Regions from separate parts of the Homo sapiens genome. Here region 2 is linked to region 1. Evidence: fine-mapped expression QTL. Tissue or cell type: whole blood. Region 1 holds a variant in brackets; the other region holds the start of a gene. All regions are shown on one strand. Distances are from middle to middle.

Region 1 (8,178 bases):
TGGTTTCCCCTCATCCTCCCCAACTCTTATGATCAAATATTTAGTAATTGCCGACCTGAGGTGGAGGAGACCCCTGGTCTGAAGGAAGAGAAGGAACTCTCCCAACCCAAAGAGGGGGAGGCCACAGACCTGAAGAAAGAGGTGGAGAAAATCTCCTCATCCGAGGAAGAGGAGACTGTGAACCTGAAGGAAGAGGTGGAGAAAATCCCCCCACCTGAGGAGGAGACTATGGACCTGAAGGAAGAGAAGGAGGAGATCCCCCCACCTGAGGTGAGGGAGGCCACTGGCCTGAAGAAAAAGCAGGAAGAAATCCTCCCACCAGAGGACGGGGAGGCTGCAGCCTTGTCCTCTGCGCCTACGGAACAGTTAGAGACGTTTGCATCTGTGGAAGAACAGACAAGCCTGCTTCCCTCTCAATCTGTGTTCCCCCCACAAACTGCTATCCCCCCTCATTCTGTGTTCCCCCCTCCAGAGGTATTTCCCCCTCAGGCCTCTGTCCCCCCTCACTCTGTGTCCCCCCCTCCGGAGGCATTTCCCCCTCAGGCCTCTGTCCCCCCTCACTCTGTGTTCCCCCCTCCAGAGGCATTTCCCCCTCAGACTGCTGTGCCCCCTCACTCTGTGTTCCCCCCTCCAGAGGCATTTCCCCCTCAGGCTGCTGTGCCCCCTCACTCTGTGTTCCCCCCTCCAGAGGCATTTACCCCTCAGGCTGCTGTTCCCCCTCATTCTATGTTCCCCCCTCCGACGAAACTCACTTATTCCATGTTTCCTTCTGCCAATGGGTTTCCCCCTCACTGTTTCTCCAACAGGGTTCTCCCTCTGATGTGAATTTCCTTAATTTGTGCCACCTTCCCCACTGTTTTCCTTTAAGAAGATATTTATTTTCATGTACTCTCTTGTGCTTTGCCTCCATGTTGCATTTAATAACTTAGGGTAAAAGGAACATTAAACTTAATTAGAACTATATGTTCTACAGTGAAATATTGTGTATTTATTAAGCTTTCGAAATGAGTAATAAAGTAGAGGTCTTTACTGCATGGACCTAGGTTGAGTATCTTTCTTTAAAAACAGGTTTAGGTATTATGTTTTGGAGAATTGAGAAGTCAAAATAATTTCCAGATAAGAAAGATATTACAATGCATAAAAGCTTGAGCTCCTTGCTTAGAACTCTCCTAAAGGTTCCTGCGAAAGAAGATGATTAGCCCTTAGACTTATTAGGACCCAAGCCTTTCAGTACCAAATCTGAAATTTAGCACTGGCTGGGTGTGGCGGCTCATGCCTGTAATCCCAGCACTTTGGGAGGCTGAGGTTGGAGGATTGCTTGAGCCTGGCAGATCAAGGCTGCTGTGAGCCATGATTGTGCCACTGCACTCCAGCCTGGGGGACAGAGTGAGACCCTGTCTCAAAAAAACAACACACCACACACACACACAGACACACACACACACACACACACACACAGACACACACACACACACGCAAAACATAAAAATCCTCAGCACTTACATGCAGCTGGACCCTCAAACTATGGGTGCACACATGTTGAAAACAAACAGGAAGGCTGTAAAGTTAAGGTGATCCCTGAGAAAGCTGGCATCTTAAGATGGGGACACATTACAGAAAAACACACACACACACACACACACACAAGAAAAGCCCATGCCTGGCCTTTGGTGTAACTTACTGAAATAGAAAGCACAGCTGCTTAAAGTTTTTGTCCAGAATCTAGTGACCCTGATTTTAGTGACACCAGAATATATTGATTTTTATGTGTCTGTTAAAAATTTAATGATCGGGCTGGGCGTGGCGGCTCACACCTGTAATCCCAGCACTTTGGGAGGCCGAGATGGGCGGATCACTTGAGGTCAGGAGTTCAAAACCAGCCTGACCAACATGGAGAAACCCCATCTCTACAAAAAACACAAAATTAGCCGGGCGTGGCGGTGTGAGCCTGTAATCCCAGCTCAGCTACTCAGGAGGCTGAGGCAGGAGAATTGCTTAAACCCAGGAGGCAGAGGTTGCAGTGAGCTGAGATTGCACCATTGCATTCCAGTCTGGGTAACAAGAGCGAAACTCTGTCTCAAAAAAAAAAAAAAAAAAAAAAAAAAAAATCTAATGGTCTGAAGAAGTGTGAAGCACTTGGAGTAAAATTCGAAAAGGGCAAACTGACTTCCAGCCACATTGCCACCTAGTGGCACACACCTCAAATGCCACCTGGAAAACCACTCCACTTCCAGGATTTTATAAAGGAATTTTAGTATCCTCTAACTTCAAGCCTATGTTAGTACAATGAAAGTAATAAGATACCACTTAGTATTTATCATTTGCAACATCCTGTATTTATTAGACACTTTACATCACACTTCATCTAATCCTCAGAGCAACCTTTTTAAGAAAGGAGCTCCACAGTCCCTGTTTTAGAGGAATAGAAGGTGAGACTTTAGTAAAAGGATTCAAACTCACGACTTTCTGACACTACAGCCTACCTCTCCTACCTAACTTGGGCTAGGTGTTCATTTCAACTTTCAAACCTTGGGTCTTTGTCCTTTTCCTGCAGTTTATCACTGTCTTCATGGCATTAATTTGGCTTTTTTTTTTTTTTTTTTTTTTTGAGACGGAGTCTCGCTCTGTCACCCAGGATGGAGTGCAGTGGCGCGATCTCATCTCATTGCAACCTCTGCCTCCCGAGTTCAAGCAATTCTCCTGCCTCAGCCTCCTGAGTAGCTGGGATTACAGGTATGCATTACCATGCCTGGCTTATTTTTGTATTTTTAGTAGAGGGGGTTTCACCACGTTGGCCAGGCTGGTCTTGAACTCCTGACCTGAAGCGATCCCCCCCACCTCGGCCTCCCAAAGTGCTGGGATTACAGGCGTGAGCCACCACACCTGGCCTAAGCATTAGTTGGCTTTTTATTTGCAAACCCTGGAGACTACTTTTCTTACCCCTGGCTGCATATTAGAATCACCTGAGAAATTTTAAAATCATCTGATGTCCATGCCATATCCCAGAAAAATTAAATCTGAACCTCTGGGGTGGGGCCCAGGAACAGGTATTAAAATCAGTGATTTTATTATGCAACTAAGGTAAAGACCTAATAGCAGATCATTCCTTTAGTGATACTCACATAGGCCATGACGCGCCTGCTCTGCACCCTCAATGACACACCTTTTCCATTTCCAACCCTGGGTAAGCCATCCGTCTTCCTCCCCTCCTGGAATTTTTCTGGACTACA[T/A]TGGTAACTGTGCTGATTTGTTCCCCTATTAGTTCATGTCCTTCAGCTTGATTGGAATGGCTCAGCAACTCCATGTGGGCAGCACTGAGGAGGTATCTGCTCTGGGCGAGGCCTGCGCCCGAGGCACAGACACAGATTTCTCCAGCTTTGGAGAACCATGGTCTGGAAGGACATCAACACCCAGGCACTCCCTATTCTTCGATGGAGAGTTTCTAAACAAAGGATTTTCCAATATTTATAAAGAAAAGAGGCCGGGCGTGGTGGCTCACACCAGTAATCCCAGCACTTTGGGAGGCTGAGGCGGGCGGATCACCTAAGGTCAGGAGTTTGAGACCAGGCTGACCAACATGGTGAAACCCCGTCTCTACTAAAAATACAAAATTAGCTGGGCGTGGTGGCACATGCCTGTAATCCCAGCTACTCGGGAGGCTGAGGCAGGAGAATCGCTTGAACCTGGGAGATGGAAGTTGCAGCGAGCCAGGATCACGCCATTGCACTCCAGCCTGGGCAACAAGAGCAAAACTCAGTCTCAAAAAGTAAAAAGAAAAAAAAAAAAAAAAAAAGAGAGGGCTGGGTGCGATGGCTCACACCTGTAATCCCAGCACTTTGGGAGGCTGAGGTGGGACAGTCTCTTGAGTGCAGGCCAATAATGAGACCTTGTCTCTCTCTTAAAAAAAAAAAAAAAAAAAGACGAGAGTACGGTGAGAAGGGTGTTTCAGATGAAGAGAATAACGTGGGGAGACCTTTTTCATCCCTAAATAATGCTCTACTCCACTGGGTCTGAGGCATGGGATCTGAATTAGCAGCATCACCAATACCTAGGAGCTTGTTAGAAGAAATGCAAAATTGGCTGGGCACGGTGGCTCACACCTGTAATCTCAGCACTGTGGGAGGCCAAGGCAGGCGGATCACCTGAGGTCAGGAGTTTGAGACCAGCCTGGCCAACATGGTGAAACCCTGTCTCTACTAAAATACAAAAATTAGCCGGGCATGGTGGTGGGTGCCTGTGGTCCCAGCTACTGGGGAGGCTGATGCAGGAGAATTGCTTGAACCCAGGAGGTGGAGGCTCAGTGGAGCCGAGATTGTGCCACTGCACTCCAGCCTGGGCTTCAGAGCGCAACTCTGTCTCAAAAAAAAAAAAAAAAAAAGCAAATTCTTGAATCCCACTCCACTCCTGCAAAATCAGAAAGGCTGGGGGAGCCCTCCAGGTGTTTCCAGAGCGTGCTAAAGTTTGAGAAGCACCATTCTACTCAAATCTGTTTAGCTGCTTTTCAAACAGACCTATATTCTTGGTTCTTTTCTATTCTTTTTTCTCGAGACGGTGTCTCACTCTCGACTAGGCTGGACAGCAGTGGTGCAATCTCGGCTACTGCAACCTCTACTCTCCGGGTTCAAGCTGTTCTCCTGCCTCAGCCTCCCAAGTAGCTGGGACTACAGGCATGTGCCAACACACCCGGCTAATTTTTGTATTTTCAGTAGAGATGGGATTTCACCATGTTGGCCAGGCTGGTCTCAAACTCCTGACCTCAGGTGATCCACCTGCCTTGGCCTCCCAAAATGCTGGGATTACAGGTATGAGCCACCACGCCTGGCCATATTCTATTTTTTCTAAATATTTCTTTTTTGTGTGTACATAATAAAAAATGAAATAGTACAGTACATGATAAAAAAAATTCAACACTTGCCCTCCCTAGAAGCACATTGAACTTTTCTCTTTTTAATTCTAAAGAATAAGCTAAATAATATTCTTATATGCCTATTTTGAAATGTACTATCTTGGTGTCCACTGACTCCCTACTCTAAGAGATGAAAATTTAGCTCGCCAAACTCTTCCACTTAACTGTTACATCATTTCTAAGTTCTACTTGTTTCCTGTGTTTTAAAAATCTACTCAATCCTCTGTAGTTCTAATACTTTCCAACAACTTTTTACCTCAATTAAAAAAAAATCACACCTATTCACTTACTTATGTAATTTTTTTTTTTTAATTTTGAGACAGGGTCTCACTGTCATCCAGGCCGGAGTGCAGTGGCACGATCTTGGCTCACTGCAACCTCTGCCCCCCGGGCTCAAGCAATCCTCCCACCCCAGCCTCGCCAGTAGCTGGGACTACAAGTGCATGCCACTATGCACGACTAATTTTTGTATTTTTTTGTAGAGACGGGGTCTCACCATGTTGCCCAAGCTGGTCTCAAACTTCTGGGCTCAAGCGATCTGCCAGCCTCGACCTCCCAAATTGCTGGGATTATAGGTGTGAACCACTGCACCCGGCCCATTTATATAATTTAAAAAGTCAAAATGATTCTATAGTATTTAATGAAAGAGTCCTTGCTCCTTTACCCCCATTACAGATTCTTACTCCCTAAAAGCAACTACTTTCAGCTGTTTCTCCTAGTATTTGCTTCCATATTCACGTTGCCCAGGCCAGAATGCAGTGGCGAGATCTTGGCTCACTACAACCTCTGCCCCTGGGGTTCAAGCGATTCTCCCGCCTCAGCCTCCTGAGCAGCCAGGATTACAGAGGTGCACCGCCAATCCGGCTACTTTTTTGTATTTTTAGTAGAGACAAGGTTTCTCTATGTTGGCCAGGCTGTGCTTCCATATTCTTAAATAACAGTTTTACTTCTATTTCTTGATTTTAAAATTTTTGATATCTAATCACTTCTTATTGTGGAAGATAAAGATTTAACTCACATTTTCCTTCTACCAAAACACCACAAATCCCCATGCTACTAATAATTCATTCAGCTGGGCGTGGTGGCTCATGCCTGTACTCCCAGAACTTTGGGAGGCCAAGGCGGGCAGATCACTTGAGGTCAGGAGTTTGAGACCAGCCTGGCCAACATGGTGAAATCCCATCTCTACTGAAAATATAAAATTAGCCAGGTATGGTGGTGCATGCTTGTAGTCCCAGCTACTTGGGAGGCTGAGGCAGGAGACTTGCTTGAACCCGGGAGGGGGAGGTTGCAGTGCACTCCAGCCTAGACAACAGAGCGAGACTCCATCTCAAAAAAAAAAAAATAATAATTCATTCATCCTAATATTTGGTTATATTGGTTTTTATTATTATGACATTATAGTTAAATAATGTTATTATTTACTTATTTAGAGCTGGGATCTCACTCTGTCACCCAAGCTGAGTGCAGTGCTATAATCATAGCTCACTGCAGCCTCAAACTCTTGGGCTCAAGTGATCTTCCTGCCTCATCCTCCGAGCAGCTAGTTTCTATGTGCCTTTTTTTTTTGAGACGGAGTCTGACTCTTGTAGCCCATGCTGGGGTGCAATGGGGTGATCTTGGCTCATTGCAACCTCCGCCTCCTGAGTTCAAGCAATTCTCCTGCCTTAGCCTCCTGAGTAGCTGGGATTACAGGCATGCGCTACCACACCTGGCTAATTGTGTCTTCTTATTTATTTGTGAGGAAGACAGAGCTGAACAAATTATATCCATGTGTGAAAATATCAATAATACTAGATTTTGCTAAGGGAGAGAGACTTTTTTCTGGTCAGTTACCATTTGAAGTAGGATCCTCCTAAGGTCTTTGTAATTCAAGGTCCTGGGCTCAGCACTGAAGAGCTGCACTGTACTGCCTCTAGGGGTCAGCATAACGTGAAGGATGAGCAAGCACAGCCACCCATTTCAGAAAGCAAAGGATTTGTAGGGTGGAGGAAGCAATGCAGTTAACTGTGTAGGTTTCCACTGAAAGTGAGGACCAGGAGTTGAGGGGAAGCAGATTCTATGCCCAGTCCGCACAGTGTTTTGGTTTGTGTTCAATAGAAAATCAGGGACCCAAATAATTTAATAATATTTGGCCTATCACATAAACTCCCTTGAAATTAATGACAGGATTTTCTTTTCTTTCTTTTAAAATTTTAACTTAAAGACTAGTGTGATAGTAAACTGACAGGATTTTCATTATACCCCTCATACATACTGAAAGCCACTTACTTTTTAAATGTCTGGACACTTTGGACTTACACCACAGAGATGTAAAACACCACAAATTGCTTCTCCCAAATGTAATGGTTTTTCTTTTTTTCTTTTGAGACGGAGTCTTGCTCTGTCGCCCAGGATGGAGTGCAGTGGTGCCATCTCGTCTCACTGCAAGCTCTGCCTCCCAGGTTCACGCCATTCTCCTGCCTCAGCCTCCCCAGTAGCTGGGACTATAGGCGCCCGCCACCATGCCCGGCTAATTTTTTGTATTTTTAGTAGAGATGGGGTTTCACCATGTTAGCCAGGATGGTCTCAATCTCTTGACCTCGTGATCCGCCCGCCTCAGCCTCCCAAAGTGCTGGGATTACAGGTGTGAGCCACCGTGCCCAGCAGTTTTTCTTTTTTTCTAATTTTTATTTTTTATTATTAAAATTAAATTTTTATTTTTATTTTTTTTGTAGAGATGGGGTATCATACCATGTTGCCCAGGCTGGTCTCAAAACTCCTGGGCTCAAGCAATTCTCCTGCCTTGGCCTCCCAGAGTGTTGGGATTATAGGCGTGAGCCACTATGCCCAGCTATGTAATGGTTTTTCAATTTGAACTTCCTATATGATTTTTATTTATTTTGAGCCAGGGTCTCACTCTGCTGCCCAGGCAGGAATGCAGTGGCACAATACTGGCTCACTGTAGCCTCCAACTCTTGGGCTCAAGCCATCCTCCTGCTTCAGTCTCTTGAGTAGCTAAGACTACAGGCACACACCACCATGCCGGGCTAACTTTTTAACTTTTTTGTAGAGACGGGATCTTGCTATGGCCTAGGCTGGTCTTGTACTGCTGGCCTCAAGTGATCCTCCTGCTTCAGCCTCCCAAAGTGCTGGGACTATAGGTGTGAGCCACTGCACTCAGCCCAAACTTCTTATTTTAAGGCTAGAATGATGAGTGGCTGGCTGGCCCTCTCTCTAAGGTAGTAAGTGGTGGGCTTTATTCTTTATACCTATAAACTAATTTATTTTAT
Region 2 (8,178 bases), 61 kb before region 1:
GAGTCTCACTCTGTGGATTAGGCTGGAGTGCAGTGGCACAATCTTGGCTCACTGCAAACTCTGCCTCCTGGGTTCAAGCGATTCTCCCGCCTCAGCCTCCTGAGTTGCTGGGACAACAGGCACACGCCACCATGCCCGGCTAATTTTTGTATTTTTAGTAGAGACGGGGTTTCACCATGTTGGCCAGGCTGGTTTCAAACTCCTGACCTCAGGTGATCCACCTGCCTCAGCCTCCCAAAGTGCTGAGATTACAAACATGAGCCACTGCTCCCAGCCTCAAATGCTAAATGCTAAATTATGATTAGCGTTTAATGACAATAAATATATGTGACCTTTTTCACATCCAAGATATCAGATACTCTGAATTCTAGCCAGACACTACCCAGGCACTCTGGGTTCAAAATCCCTGATCAAGAAGAAAGCAGAGGCTGGTACAAGTTTAGCAAATTTTGTCTCAGGGTTGGATGGTAGCCATCAAAAGGGCTCAGGGACCAGACGTCCTGGCTTCTGCCTGCAGTCCCAGCTACTTGGGAGGCTGAGGCGGTCAGATTATTTGAGCCCAGGAGTTCAAGGTTACTCTAAGCTATGATTGCATCACTGCATTCCAGCCTGGGTGACAGAGCAAGACCCTGCCAAAAAAAAAAAAGTGATTAGGGAGACCGGAGATTTTCACCAGTGTACTCCCAAGTTCTGCTTTGTATTTTAAGGAGGTTACTTTAAAAGTATACAATACAGGAGAGCACCGGTTGGAAAGGGCAAGAAATGTTTAGCACTTCCCTCAAGGGACTGGGGGTTGGGAGGGCGGATAAACTTCCTTTAATTTTAGGGATGGAAAAAAGCTTGTTGATTTGCATTGCCTTGGCTTGTGACTGCCATCTTTTCATATGTTTATCTGCTTGCATTTCCTTTGTGGTGTATTACCTTTTCAACACTGGCAGCCTGTTCTTATCGGCGGGGTGGGGCGGCGGCGGGGGGTCGGTGTGTGTGTTTTTCTGAATTTGCTGGGGGGATTATGGACTTCTCTTTTCTTCTTTTTTTTTTTTTTAAATAAGAACAATTACTAGTCCCTCACCTCAGTCTCTATTATCTGACCTCTGAGGCCACCCAAAGTTTGGTGTGGTATCTCTCACAACGTACAGGTGACTTTTGTGTTTTTGCTTTTTTTTTTGAGATCTCACTCTCGCCCAGCGTGGCAAGCAGTGGTGTGATCACTGTTCGCTGGTCACAAACTCCAGGGACCAAGTGATCCTCTCACCTCAGTCTCCTGAGGAGCTGGTATTACAGGCATGCTACCATACCAAGATAAAGTGCCTGGTTTTTATGGGTGCATGGGAGGACAATAAAGGAGAATGCCAACTTCGACTTCTAGTTAGTACGTCTCTCTCCTTGGGTATGGGGACATTTACTTTTTTTTAATAGCTTTATACTTTTAACACTATTTTCTTTTTTTCAATAGGCCATTTGTAATCTTCCAGTTATATATGCACACCTCACTCTTCTATGTGTGACATGCCATATTTTGAACATATTTTGGTTCAATAAGTAATTCCCTCAGCAGTGGGCATTCAAGTAATTTACAGGGTTTTGTTTTGTTTTGTTTTGTTTTCTTCTGTTTTTGAGACAGAGTCTCACTGTCGCCCAGGCTGAAGTGCAGGTGGCACAATCTCAGCTCACTGCAACCCCCGCTTCCCAGGTTCAAGTGATTCTCCTGCCTCAGCCTCCCGAGTAGCTGGGACTACAAGCGTGCACCACTGCACCCAGCTAATTTTTGTATTTTTAGGGATGGGGCTTCACCATGTTGGCCAGGCTGGTCTCCAGCTCCAGACCTCAGGTGATCCGCCCACCTCGGCCTCCCAAAGTGCTGGGCTGGGTGCGGTGGCTCAAGCCTGTAATCCCAGCACCTTTCGGGGCAGCAGGAGCACTTGAGGCCAGGAATTTGAGACCAGCCTGTGCAACATAGCAAAACCATCTCTAAAAAACTTTTTTAGATAATAAAAAATTTGGAATATATGAGCTTCTTAACCTACTACTAAACAAGATTGAGTAGCAGGACTAAACTATATATATATATATATATATATATATATATATATAATTTATTTTTTTTGAGAGGGCGTCTCACTCTTGCCCAGGCTGGAGTGAAATGGCAGGATCTCGGCTCACTGCAACCTCCACCTCCCAGGTTCAAGCGATTCTCCTGCCTCAGCCTCCCACGTAGCTGGGACTACAGGAGCGTGCCACCATGCCCAGCTAATTTTGGTACTTTTTAGTAGAGATGGGGTTTCGCCATGTTGGCCAGACTGGTCTCGAACTGCTGACCTTAAGTGATCTGGCCTCCTCAACCTCCCAAAGTGCTGGGATTACAGGTGTGAGCCACCACACCTGGCCCTACCTTTTAATCTTGAAGTAGTGAGAATGCAAAACCTGCAACAACTGTTATGTGAAACAAAATGTGGTTTCTAGCGATGACGAACTGTGGGTTCTGCTAATAGCACCAGACTGCAAAAGGGTCCTGACCCACACTAGATTATAAGTAGGGCTCATTTCTTTATCAGACCCAAGGTCATTTCCCTTGTTTCACTCTAAAATACCCCTCCCCAGTCCAGGCGCAGTGACTCACGCCTGTAATCCCATCACTTTAGGAGATGGAGGTGGAAGGATCACCTGAGGTCAGGAGCTCGAGACCACCCTGGCCGAATGGCAAAACCCCGTCTCTACTAAAAATACAAAAATTAGCCGGGTATAATGGCAGGCGCCTGTAATCCCAGCTACTTGGGAGGCTGAGGGAGTAGAATCGCTTGAACCCAGGAGGCGTAGGTTGCAGTGAGCGGAGATGGCACCATTGCACTCCAGCCTGGGCGACAAGAGCGAAACTCCGTCTCAAAAAATGAAATACCCCACCCCAACCCCACCCGCACACTTACCCGCCACTAATCCTACCCCTAATCCACTAAACTACTTACCAAGTCTCAGCAGTTCATCCGCCTCTGTACCTTCGCTGGGAAGACGAACTCCGCAGAGCAGGACTCGGGTCTACTCTAAGCTGTGCCTTGGTGCCTAGAATTCAAGTCAAGTTCATAACACCAAAGTTTAAGGTTTATTTAATGTAGAAAATCACCTTATATTGAAGACTGGGAAAAAAAAGCACTTATCTATGCATGTGTTTGCTTAAAAAGGCACACACAATTAGCAGAGTCTGGGGTGTAAGTCGGGAGAGGGCTGCAGGGAATGGGAGGACCCAGAGGTGGATCTGAGGAGGCCAGGGAGGGGCCGGAGAGAATGGTTTCTTCTTTGTGAGAGTTGGGGTCTATTATTATGGAAGGCACGCTTTCCTTTTGCAATTTGAACAAGAATTCGATTTGCCTAACAATCGGAGGAAATTGAAGAAAATGCAAAAGTTATTACTTCCAAATCAATTTTTCCAGTCACATAATTAAACACTTTTTTTTTTTTTTGAGACGGAGTTTCGCTCTGCCGCCCAGGCTGGAGTGTAGTGGCCCGATCTCGGCTCACTGCAACCTCCGCCTCCCCGGTTCAAGCGATTCTCCTGCCTCGGCCTCCCTAGTAGCTGGGACTACAGGCGCGAGCCAACACACCCGGCTAATTTTGTATTTTTGGTAGAGACGGGGTTTCCCAAGTTGGCCAGGATGGTCTCGATCTCCTGACCTCGTGATCCGCCCCCGCCTCGGCCTCCCAAAGTGCTGGAAAATAACACGCCCGGCCCTCCATCTTTTTTTATTTGAGACAGTTTCGCCCCTGTTGCCCAGTCTGGAGCGCAATGGCGCGATCTCGTCTCAGTGCAACCTCTGCCTCTCGGGTTCAAGCGATTCTCCTGCCTCAGCCTCCTGAGTAGCTAGGATTACAGGCATGCGCCACCACGCCTGGCTAATTTTGTATTTTTAGTAGAGACGAGGTTTCTCCATGTTGGTCAGGATGGTCTCGAACTCCGACCTCAGGTGATCCGCCCGCCTCGGCTTCCCAAAGTGCTGGGATTACAGGCGTGAGCCACTGCTCCCGGCCCCTCCATCCTTTTTCTAAAGCTAGGACTTGTCAAGCACCACCTCATTTTCTTGACTTTATTTTTTCTTCACAGAACTACTTTCATGTTTCCAATTTGGGGATAGATAAGTCTTAGGAGAGTTTTTTTCTCATTGCGCCACGGACAGTAAGGGAAAGAGCAGGGAGTCAAGTGAGGGGGCCAACTGCCTGCCCCTACCCGGGCCCCACGCACGCACCCGGATCAGCCTTGCCTGGGGCACCTCGGGCCTCACGTACCTGGGCCAGCCTTACCCGGGGCACCCCGCGCCCTTCGCGCCTGGACCAGCCTTATCCGGGGCACCCTGGACCTCACGCTCCTGGACCAGCCTTACTTGGGGCGCTGCGGACCCCACGCGCCTAGACCAGCCTTACCCGGGGCACCCCGGACCCCACGCCCCTGGACCAGCCTTACCCGGGGCACCCCGGACCCCACGCGCCTGGCCCAGCCTTACCCGGCGCGCCCCGGACCCCACGCGCCTGGGCCAGCCTTACCCAGGGCACGCCGGGCCCCATGCACCCGGGCCAGCCTTACCTGGCGAAAAAGGAATCCGCCTGGACGACTGAGGAGCGAACAAAGTGAGGATGGAGCCTTGTAACTAAGGACTGAGAGGATTCCCGATCTCTGGGGCTGGCTCCTCCCCTCCTGGTGTGTCCCAACCCCCTCTGTCTACATACCCGCGCCTCCTCCCCGGAAATCGCATTCCGCCCTAAGCAATTGCTGACTTCCATTGCTGCCCCCCGACTGAGTCCAATTCCCTCTGTCTCCACCGTGCCTCCGCTTGAACGAGCCCCACCCCTCAGACCCGACTCCAGACTCAAATCTGAATAAAGGCACCACTAAAGCGCCTCATCACCCAGGCCTGAACCCCAAGGTCACCTCATTCCTTTTCTTCAACCCTCGCAGTTAATCCATTCCTAAGTCCTTGAATTTGCCGGCGTCTCTCCAACTCCACAGCTCCAGCCCAGTCCAAGCCCCCGTTGTCTCTCACCTGGATCACTGAAATCACCTCCAACTGCTCCCTGGCCTCTCCCACGACCCCTCTGTAATCCTTCTCCCCCTCCAATACTGTTCAGTGGCTTCCTGTTTCGGTTAAATTTCTACCTTCTCATTCTATCCGGACTGCCCCTTCAACATTGTCTTAGCACTACTCTTACAACAGAAACACTCTCTTTCTGTTCCTCAAAAAACACGGAACTACCTGCCTCAGGGCCCTTGCACTGGCTGTTTCCTCTGCGAGTTATTTTTTTCTTTTTCTTTCTTTCTTTCTTTCTTTTTTTTTTTTTTTGAGACAGTCTCTGTTGCCACAGCTGGAGTGCAGTGGCATGATCTTGGCTCACTGCAACCCCGGCCTCCTGGGTTCAAGCAATTCTCCTGCCTTAGCCTCCCAAGTAGCTGGGATTACAGGAGCACGCCACCACTCCCGGAAAATTTTTGTATTTTTTTTTTTTCTTTTTGAGACAGAGTTTTCTTATGTCACCCAGGCTGGAGTGCAGTGGCGCAATCTCGGCTCACTGCAACCTCTGCCTCCTGGATTCAAGCGATTTCTCCTGCCTCAGCCTCCTGAGTAGCTGAGATTACAGGCCCATGCCACCACGCCTGGCTAGTTTTTGTATTTTTAGTAGAGGGGGGTTTCACCATGTTGGTCAGGCTGGTCTTGAACTTCTGACCTGGTGATCCGCCCACCTCAGCTTCCCAAAGTGATGGGATTACAGGCGTGCGCCACCACGCCTGGCCACCTCTTTATTTTCCCAGTTCTTTCAGGATGGCTTCTGTTCATCCTCAGGTCTCAGGTCCAATGTTAACTCCTCTAACAGGCCTCCCAGACTACCCTTTCTACAGGAGCCAAACTCCCCATATCCCAATACTCTTTTTTTGTTTTATTTTTGTTTCTTAAGAGAGGGTCTTGCTCTCTAACAGAGACTCAAAGGTTCTGGGTGGTTGGACTCCCCAGGCCTGACTTGCAAGGCTCAGGTGGAACTTGACTTGCCCAAAGTCATGCAGCTAATAAGCAAAGAAGCCTCAATATCTGGTAGTTCAGTCAATACACAGCATATGAATAAACAAAGAGAATTCGGTCTTTTGCTTTTAATCCCTTATTTCTTCTTACTGCCTAAAATCCCAGCACTTTGGGAGGCTGAGGTGGGAGGATCACTTGTTCATAGTTTAAAACAAAGATGATAACAGCCCTTTCCCGAAACAAACCCTGGGGATTTAGACTGCCTTTGCAGTACTAACAAATTAGCCACAGGATTAGAAATTATGGTTTAGGAGTCATGCAGCTGGAGGCTACAAGACTCTGACTCTCCCCAAATGGCTTCTGGGGATAAGACCACTACTGCAAAACCTAAGACCAGGGAGATATTCCACAGATATTTTGCAGATCCTGCACTTGACGGATCAGCTGGTACCACCCAGATCAATAAACTGGCTGATATGATCTTGGTGGCCCCCACCCAGGAATTGATTCAGCGCAAGAAGACAGCTTTGACTCCCTATGATTTCATCTCTGATCTGACCAATCAGCACTCCCAGCTCACTGGCTTCCCCCCTCCCACCAAGTTGTCCTTAAAAACTCTGATCCCTGAATGCTTGGGGAGATTGATTTGAGTAATAAAACTCTGGTCTCCCACACAGCCCACTCTGTGTGAATTACTCTTTCTCTATTGCAATTCCCCTGTCTTGATAAATGGGCTCTGTGTAGGCAGTGGGCAAGGTGAACCCATTGGGCAGTTACAATCACACCACTACACTCCAGCCTGGGTGACAGAGCAAGACCTTGTCTAAAAAAAAAAAAAAAAAAAACTGGGCAAGGTGGCTCAAGCCTGTAATCCCAGCACTTTGGGAGTCCAAGGCAGGTGGATCACCTGAGGTCAGGAGTTTAAGACCTGAGGTAAGCCTGGCCAATATGGTGAAACCCCATCTCTTATAAAAGTACAAATATTAGCCAGGCGTTGTGGTGTGTGCCTGTAATCCCAGCTACTCAGGAGGTTGAGGCAGGCGAATCGCTTGAACCTGGGAAACGGAGGTTGCAGTGAGCTGAGATCGTGCCACTGCACTCCAGCCTGGGTGACAGAGCAAGACCCTGTCTCAAACAAACAAAAAAAACGAAAATTTGAACACTGACTGGATATTTGATGATATTAAGAATAACTGTTGGGCTGGGCGCGGTGGCTCACGCCTGTAATCCCAGCACTTTGGGAGGCCGAGGCGGGGCGGATCACGAGGTCAGGAGATCGAGACCATCCTGGCTAAAACGGTGAAACCCCGTCTCTACTAAAAAATACAAAAAAATTAGCCGGGCGTGGTGGCCGGCGCCTGTAGTCCCAGCTACTCCGGAGGCTGAGGCAGGAGAATGGCGTGATCCCGGGAGGTGGGGCTTGCAGTGAGCCGAGATCATGACACTGCACTCCGGCGTGGGCGACAGAGCGAGACTCCGTCTCGAAAAAGAAAAAGAATAACTGTTAATTTCAGTGTAATAAGATTACTGTGATTAGATTTTTTAAAGGTTAAAGCCTTCTGTTACTTAAGATCACGTGTTCTTGGGCTCTCAGTGCAATAGAAATTGACATGAGGCTGAAGGAGTGTTCCCATACAAGGCTTGTTAGAGCTTATGCACAGACATAACGGAGAGGACTACCTGACTAACTCTGCTTTATTAGACAATCAGGGGTAGAGTATGCAGGTTGGGCTGGGCAAAGCACATGAGGGGTAGAGTATGCGGGTCAGCCTTATCTGGTTTTGATGGCTTTATTGAGTAATGGATCACCCACCTGGTGGTCTGGCGAACAGCAACAAGGCTGTAAATCAATTGTTCAGCATTTCTTCCTGAGGTGGGACACTCCACAACCTTAGTTTAATATTTAGATTTCCTAAAGCCAGTTCCCGGAATTCTTTTAAGTAAAAGGCAAGGTTAAACATTATGGGCGGGGTGCGGTGGCTCACGCCTGTAATCCCAGCACTTTGGGAGGCGGAGGCGGGCAGATCACGAGCTCAGAAGATCGAGAACATCCTGGTTAACACGGTGAAACCCCGTCTCTACTAAAAATATAAAAAAATTAGCCAGGCTTGGTGGCTGGCCCCTGTAGTCCCAGCTACTCAGGAAGCCGAGGCAGGAGAATGGCATAGAACCCGTAAGAGCC

The links. PIP is the estimated chance that this variant, and not a neighbour inherited with it, causes the effect.
Region 2: it holds the start of L1TD1, and the variant in region 1 is fine-mapped to the expression of L1TD1 in whole blood (INTERVAL, PIP above 0.99).

What each region holds. Positions count from the first base shown.
Region 1 is chr1:62,129,946-62,138,123 of GRCh38, reverse strand. The region is part of intron 41 of PATJ (PATJ crumbs cell polarity complex component); the gene reads right to left. Among named protein-coding and RNA genes, the nearest start is that of MIR3116-2, 55 kb to the right of the region's middle. The variant T/A (reference allele first, on the strand shown) is at 3,231.
Region 2 is chr1:62,191,314-62,199,491 of GRCh38, reverse strand. It overlaps L1TD1 (LINE1 type transposase domain containing 1), which reads right to left and starts at 4,643. Exons shown (of 4, transcript NM_019079.5): 1 at 4,571-4,643; 2 at 2,964-3,057. RefSeq lists enhancers at 3,788-4,643, 4,644-5,500.